Linked DNA regions of Homo sapiens. The protein of the gene in region 1 interacts with the protein of each later gene in a biochemical or structural test. Each region holds a gene or a part of one and is shown in the gene's direction. Other genes may lie near its edges. The genes, in order: CNOT11 and OBI1.

Region 1 (3,500 bases):
AATGCATGCCAAGTTGTTTGTTGCATGTCTATCCTATGCATACCTAAAGATACAGGCTGGGCGCAGTGGCTCACACCTGCAATCCCAGCATTTTGGGAGGCCGAGGCAGGTGGATAACTTGAGGTCAGGAGTTCTAGAGCAGCCTGGCCAACATGGTGAAACCCCATCTCTACTAAAAATAAAAAATTAGCCGAGTGTAGTGGCATGCATCTGTAGTCCCAGCTACTTGGGAGGCTGAGTCAGGAGAATTGCTGAGGCAGAAGTTGCAGGAGCCGAGATCGAACCACTGCACTCCAGCCTGGGTGACAGAGTGAGATTCTGTCTCAAAAAGGAAAAAAAAAAAATACAGATTCTCATTTTACTGAAATGAGTCTTTTTGTAGCAGCTCATTATCTTTTTGTTTTATACCTGTTAAATCTTCTTATTGCTATCATTTCCTTTTCCATTTTAAAGTTTTTCTTATAAACTCCTAATTTACTTTAATTCAAAGAAAACACTTGTAGAATTTGAAATAATATAGCTGCATTTTTTGGGGATTTCTTTAAGAGATGGAATCTTGCTATGATGCCCAGGCTGGACTCAATCCCTTGAGGCTCAGGGGATCCTCCTACCTCAGACTCCCACATAGTTGGAATTACAGGCATGCACCACTCTACCTGGCATCTGTTTTATAGGCTTCTGTGTGCTTTGAATTATGAAGGCAAGCTTTCTGCTTTGGGATGAGAACATGTTTACCAGATGATAGTGTAGTATCACCATGAGTTTGAAGTTCACACAGTGACTTTTGTACCATTTGGTTTACAGTAGATCTTTGACATACATAGGTTTAATATTTGAAGTTTCTGCTGGTCACAAGTGTGACTGAAATGTCCATGGCATGTAATGGCTTCTTTTAAATATTTGCTCGGGCAGAACTCTAAATTGCATAGGTCACCAGGAAGATATATGAAAAGCAGATCACTCATAATAAGTGGGTCTAGCCAAACACCAGGTGTCCCCACCTCGCAAGAACTCTCTATCACATAAGTAGTATTTCTCATAAATTGTTAAAAACTTTATTTTTGTAAGTGGTTGAAGGGAGATTCAGATGCTAGTCCTGGTGAGGTAAGTGAAGAGGCAGTGGAGATGTTTAAGATAAAGTGATGATTTTTAACTAAAAAATATTTTCTGTAAACTCAACAGTAGACTCTCAAATTTGGCAGGGCTAGGATCCATGACAGGAATAAGCCACTCCTGCCCTATGTGGAAACTATGTGAGATGTGAAATTGGTTCAGCAGAAGTCCTAGCCAGCATTTATTTCAGTGGGTTTGTAACTCAGGGATGAATCTTGTTTTATAAAATAGTTGAGTTGAACCACTTCATTTTCCTTTTGTACTTCTATTGTTTTCTGAAAATGAATATAGTATTTGTGAATTTAGGGATTCGTGACGGTTTCCACATTCGTTTCGAAATATCAAAAGGCAACCATACTTTTCCTCCTGCTGCTTCATCGCCACGTAATTTGTTACTTCAGTTATAAGATGCAAAGATAAAACTAGTACAAATCATAGTGGCAGCTGAACAAATAGTGGTAACTAAGAATAGGATGTGTGAGGGCATAGTATTTCATTTTTTCATCAAAAGACTTCACCCGTTTAGGAGTCGTGCCCTTTTGCTGTTGAGTGGCCATGCTCAAGTGCAGCATGGGCAGATCACGGCCAGGCTTTCCTCACTTCTGCAAAGCGAATAGATTGTTCTCTGGCATCATGCTGGCATAGTGTTCTTTCATTGTCTTGTTTGCATTCTGACTGAAACCCTGACTTCCTGTGTCATTCCTGCTTCTGATTTTGAAGTATGAGAGTTCTAGTCACATCATCCTTATTAAGAGATTTCTTTGCATACTTTATTAAGTGAAATGTGTGAGATGTGTAGAGATGTTAGCTTCCTGATAGGAGCAACTATCACGGCTCTCATTACAGGCCATTTTCGACCAGAGTTTATTCGTCCACCGCCTCCACTCCACATTTGTGAGGATGAACTTGCTTGGCTAAACCCCACGGAGCCTGACCACGCGATCCAGTGGGATAAATCGATGTGTGTTAAGAATAGCACTGGTGTGGAGATCAAACGAATAATGGCCAAAGCCTTCAAAAGCCCCTTATCCTCTCCCCAACAAACACAGGTGTGTATTGATTGTAAGCATTTTCTTATCTTTTTTTTTAAATTTATTTTTAATTAAAAAAATTTGTTTTTGAGACAGAGTCTCACTCGGCTGCCCAGGGTGGAGTGCAGTGGCACGATCTCGGCTCACTGCAGCCTCTGCCTCCCGGGTTCAAGTGATACTCGTGCCTCAGCGCCCCCAGCAGCTGAGACTACAGGCATGCACCACCATGCCCGGCTAATTTTTGTATTTTTATGAGATGGGGTTTTGCCATTGTTGGCCAGGCTGGTCTGGTGGCTTCAAGTGATCTGCCAACCTTGGCCTTCCAAAGTGCTGGGATTACAGGTGTGAGCCACTGTACCCAGCCATTGTGAGCATTTTCTTATCTTTAATCCAACAAGAGTTTATTTTTTTTTTGGAAAGTGGTAAGCAATAAACTAATCCTGTCACTGTGAGTGAGCAGTAGGAAGTTGCAAAGGTTTTTGGGTCTCTGAAGCTTTGTTCTACTCTTTGGTAATTTTGCTGTGGTGGGGCAAGAAGTCTGATGGCAAAAATGTTCTAACTTTTCTTTGTGATGTTTGTCCCTGGGAGAGGTGGGGTAGTGGGGGTGTCACTGCTGTGTACAGTGGGACACTACACAATGGTTACGTTTGAGCTGATGGTAACGCTTCTGATGGAAAGTGGAGTTACTGACAGGCTGTAGGGAGGAAAACAAGGCTGGGAAGGGGAACCCGCCCCCATCACACAGCTGGATCGTGGTGTATTTGAGATTAAAGTAGCCCCCACTGCCCGAGTGTGAGACTGGATGACTCTCCTCAGGAAAGGCAAGGCCACTCTTCTATTGGTTGGTGAATTTTATCCAGTTTGCACACTTTTGAGTTAGAACTTTTTAGGAGATGACCTCTCCTATCACGTTTGCCACCAAAAATATCATTTTCAAAACGAAATAATAGCAACGTTTGTAGTTCGCTTTGCTCGCAAGACCATCCTGAAAACACAGTCCACTGTGGAACATATTAAGTAGACGGGGGAAAAAAAGCATAGGACATTTAAAGAGGAAGTGCTTACTTCATAGAAAAAGTCCTTTGAGGATACCTGTTTGAATTACAAAGTGTGGGTGTGACTTGAACTGTAAAGTTCTGCAGACTGATGACTCGCAGCAGGTCAGCTGTCCGGATTCCCGCTCCGGCTTCCCACTCCGCCCCCTTCTCAGGTATTTCTGGTCTCCACCTGGGTGGGGTGGGGCAGGACTGTTTCTTGGGAGAACTAGTTGGTCATTAAGATTATTTTTAGTTACAACAGATGACAGAAAAAAAAAACCTGCAAAGGACTTGACATTGTTACAACCAGACAGTATTT
Region 2 (4,030 bases), on another chromosome or scaffold:
TGAGTAGCTGGGATTACAGGCATGCGCCACCACGCCCGGCAAATTTTGTATTTTTGGTAGAGACGGGGTTTCTCCATGTTGGTCAGGCTGGTCTTGAACTCCCGAACTAGGTGATCTGCCCGCCTCGGCCTCCCAAAGTGCTGGGATTACAAGCGTGAGCCACCACTCCCAGCTTAAGTTACTTAACTCTTTTGAGCCTGTTTCCTTATCTGTAACAGTAAAAATATGGTAATAACATCAACTCCCCATCCTTTCAGTTTTCAGAAGATTAAACAAAGCATGTGCAAAGTTTAGCATAAAGTCTGGCACATAATGTTTAATAACTGTTAGCTTTTACTATAGCCATTGAGGCCAGCCCTCAAACTGAGGAAACCAGCCTTTTCCAGTAATTGTTCTTCCCAGTTGCTTTGTGAGGCTGGAGCACTTCAAAATGAAGATTTGCATTCCCAACCAAATGAGACCTGTTTGTTCTGGAAATTGCCACAGTACATCCAGAATTTTCAGCTGGTTCCATGTCTCTTTTCTTTTTTATAGTGAAAGCAAATTCAGTATGATTGTGCTGCTCACCCTCCTACACGTATTATACTGTGAGATACTAAAACTGGCGTGTCCTCAGGTTCGCTTCTGCTTCCCTGACATAGAGCATCTCTGGCCACTTCTAAGAATGTTCCTAAGGTCCTTCGTGCCTAGCTCTTTTTTAAAGATAATTGTTCTTGTGCTACTGTTACCATATGTCCCCAGATCTCACAGTCAGCATCTTCTCTTTTGATTATTCAACAGAATTAAGGACCATTATCCCTGGAGGGTCACAAGGTGGATACCATGAAGGGGGAGAGATGAGGGCAGGGCATTAAATCTGAAGAGATAGATGCCAGTGGGGATGGAGAGGAAGGAGAGAGAGCCCAGGTATTCACCTGTTAATGCTTTGTCTTTGCACTTAAAATTGGAAAATTTACACCTCTGTCTCTACTTCAGTTTTAAAGGTGAATTTTCTCTACCCAATAATGTTTTTAGTTACTTTGCCAATATTGTAAGTAAGAGCTCTATGTGGCCTGAAGAAGTTAGGTACCATCCCATGGGATGATTTACGCATAACATATTTTCTTACCTATTCTTCCCTGTTTTTTTTTTGTTTGTTTGTTTCTTAAACTAGTGGGCCAGCAAGCAGAAATGTAGTAATGATCTATCCCAGAGTATCTGTTAAGTGACATTTTGATAGTGCCACCAGGCTGTTACAAACCAGTTTACCTCTAGATAATTCCAGGGTTTATCTTTTCAATTGGGACTCAAGCTGTGAAACCAAATTATGGCATGTAATACTTTTTATTGGCCGTGCATGCATTTTGCCATGAGTGAAAGCCAAATGTGGCCCGCAGTTGGTTTTATGAAAGGGTGAAGGAGATTCTCAAGAGAAATGCAAAGCAACTAATGCTTTTCAGCATTAATGTATCATATTCAGTTATTTCTCATTCGACTATGAGTCCAGTTTTGGGTCCTACCCTTTAAGATAAACAATAAACCAGAGTATTTTGAAAACATTTGGGGGAGAATGAAATTGGGATTGGAATGTAGGTGGACTGGAATAGTGCTGGAATGAATGGATATGATAGGGAATCTTTAATTAAAATATTTTTCATTTGGAAGGGACTCAAGCCTTGTGTGGCTCCATAAAATTATGATTTCTACTTAATATTAAGGGCAAGTGTTCTGGCTGAAATAACCAGAAATGAAATCAGCTTCCTTATAATGCAGGAGTTCCTGTGTCTTGGAGTATCCTCTAGTAGACTGACTGTTTCCCATAAGGAATGCTATCAAAAGGATCCCTTCTTTCAGGGATGCCTCTCTTCTTCTCACCCATATTGTTTATTTAAAATATTGAAAATATAGGGCTAGAGACAAAGCCTTATGCAACTTAGAGTCCTCACTCTAGGATGACAAAATTCATTAATCACTGTTCACTTGGAGCTGTTGATTGATCAGCAAGTCATCCACGTCAGTACATGGAGCCCATGTTTGAGTCCTGATTGCCTCTCAGTTCCCAAGAGTGGATTTAAGAACCAGCCTTGTACATAATTGTCATAAGTAATTTGCTTTGAAAAAAAGCCATATGGACTGCAAGTTCTACATTTTTCTCTTTTTTCCAGTTGAAAATAAGTTTGAAGGATTCACTTTCAGAAAAGTATAACAATATTGCATTTTATACATAGTGTATAATAAGTTAATTCAAAAATCGTAGATGTATCCTAGTAATTATCAGGGTTGGTATGTAATAGCTGACATACTTACTTGACAAGTACAATTCCAGTTTATCCCAAAGCATTTCTGGTAGGGATGAAGGTAGAAGAGAAGAGATGTATCATCTCTCCTTTTACCTAGACAGGAATGGGGAACCAGTTCTATAGGCATTAAGTGACTTATTTCACACAGGTTTTTTTTTTTTTTTTTTCCTTAAGTTATAGGACCTAAATTCTGGCCCAGAACCAGGGATTTCTTAAAACATAACCAAGAGCTATCCAGGAATTTTATTTTGGAAAGTTTCCAAATTCCTAATGTTGAAGTAGTGGTGCCCCTACCATAGTCATTTTTACACTGAAGACTAATCCTTTACATAGTCTTTCCAGGTCTTCACTAGAGAAACCGATAAAGTTTTGACAAGGTGCAAGAAAGAATAATATTCTTTCTAGAAGCACAGTTGGCTCTTGTCTCTAGTGAGGGGAGGATGCCAGAAGAGCAGGGGAGTTGGTTTTATAATAGATATAATTGCAAGACCAGTTGGTAAAGTTCATCAATACCGTCTTCACTCCCATCACCTCCATCAGTGTCCAGGATCTCACTTCCTTCAGGCACATCGTCCTGTATTTATTTCTCCCAGATTATTGTTCACTAACCCTGCTCCAAGGAAGAAAGAACTGTTTCTTAGTTGAAAGAACACATGATTTTGCAGTTGAATCACATTGAGTACAAATGCTAGCTCTACCATTTATAACCTGTATCATTATTTCTTAGAGTCTCAGTTTCCACAACTGAAAATGGATTTGATACAACAGCCCCACTAGCTTATTAGTAAGATTCCTTTGACTATACCATACTAGTGGTTCTCAACTAGGTGGAGGTAGATTTTGTCCCCCAGGGACATGGGGCAGTGTGTGGAGACATTTCTCATTGTTTTCAAGGGGCTGCTACTGGCATCTAGTGGGTAGAGCCCAGGGATGCTGCTAGCCAGACATCCTGTAATATGCAGGGAACCGCCTAAAACAAGACTTTCTTCAGTCCAAAATGTTAGTAATGTCAAAGTTGAGAAACGCTGTTTGAAGCCAATGTGTAACTCCTAGTGGGTAAGTCTAGGATGATATGGATATTAATGAACAACAGCCTTAGGCATGTCTCTGCCCAAGTATACTTGCTTTTTTAAGAAAGGGGATTTGGTGGTAGAGTGGACTCTCTTAAGACTGGAACATCTTTAAAAGAAATGAAATATCAGAGTAACAGATTGTAAGGTTAATATATCTGCCCCAAGAACTGCCCCCTCAGGCCCATTCCAGTAAGAAGAGCCCATCCTTTACACCTGGGGGATATACCCTAGGGCAGGAGTCTCCAGTCTCAGTCAGGTACTGTTCAGTCAGTGGCCTATCAGGAACCAGGACTGCACAGCAGAAGGCGAGCAGGGAGTGAGATAGTATTACCACCTGAGCTCTGCCTCCTGTCAGATCAGAGGCAGCATTAGATTTTCATAGGAGCATGAACCCAAATGTGAACTGTGCATGCAAGGGATCTAGATTGTGTGCTCCTTAGGAGAGTCTAATGCCTGATGTTCTGAGGTGAAACCCCCCAGTCTGTGGAAAAATTATCTTCCACGAAACCAGTCCCTAGTGCCAAAAAGGTTGGGGACCGCTCCCTAGGATACCACTTTACTATGCTTACTCCAGATGAGTTTGGAATTGTATGTCACTTACCATTGCCATTTTTTTGTCTTGCATTTTTATTTCATGAGTACTGTTTTATTGCCACGGGTCTCATTTGAGAGTAAATT

What was found.
Region 2: the proteins of CNOT11 (region 1) and OBI1 form a complex in vitro, tested with the Homo sapiens proteins (one study listed by BioGRID).

Annotation. Positions count from the first base shown.
Region 1 is NC_000002.12:101,262,886-101,266,385, forward strand, and holds part of CNOT11 (CCR4-NOT transcription complex subunit 11), read left to right. Parts: intron 1-1,959; coding exon 1,960-2,162; intron 2,163-3,236; exon of another isoform or gene 3,237-3,500. UniProt on the Homo sapiens protein: Component of the CCR4-NOT complex which is one of the major cellular mRNA deadenylases and is linked to various cellular processes including bulk mRNA degradation, miRNA-mediated repression, translational repression during translational initiation and general transcription regulation.
Region 2 is NC_000013.11:78,652,446-78,656,475, reverse strand, and holds part of OBI1 (ORC ubiquitin ligase 1), read left to right. Parts: intron 1-4,030. UniProt on the Homo sapiens protein: E3 ubiquitin ligase essential for DNA replication origin activation during S phase.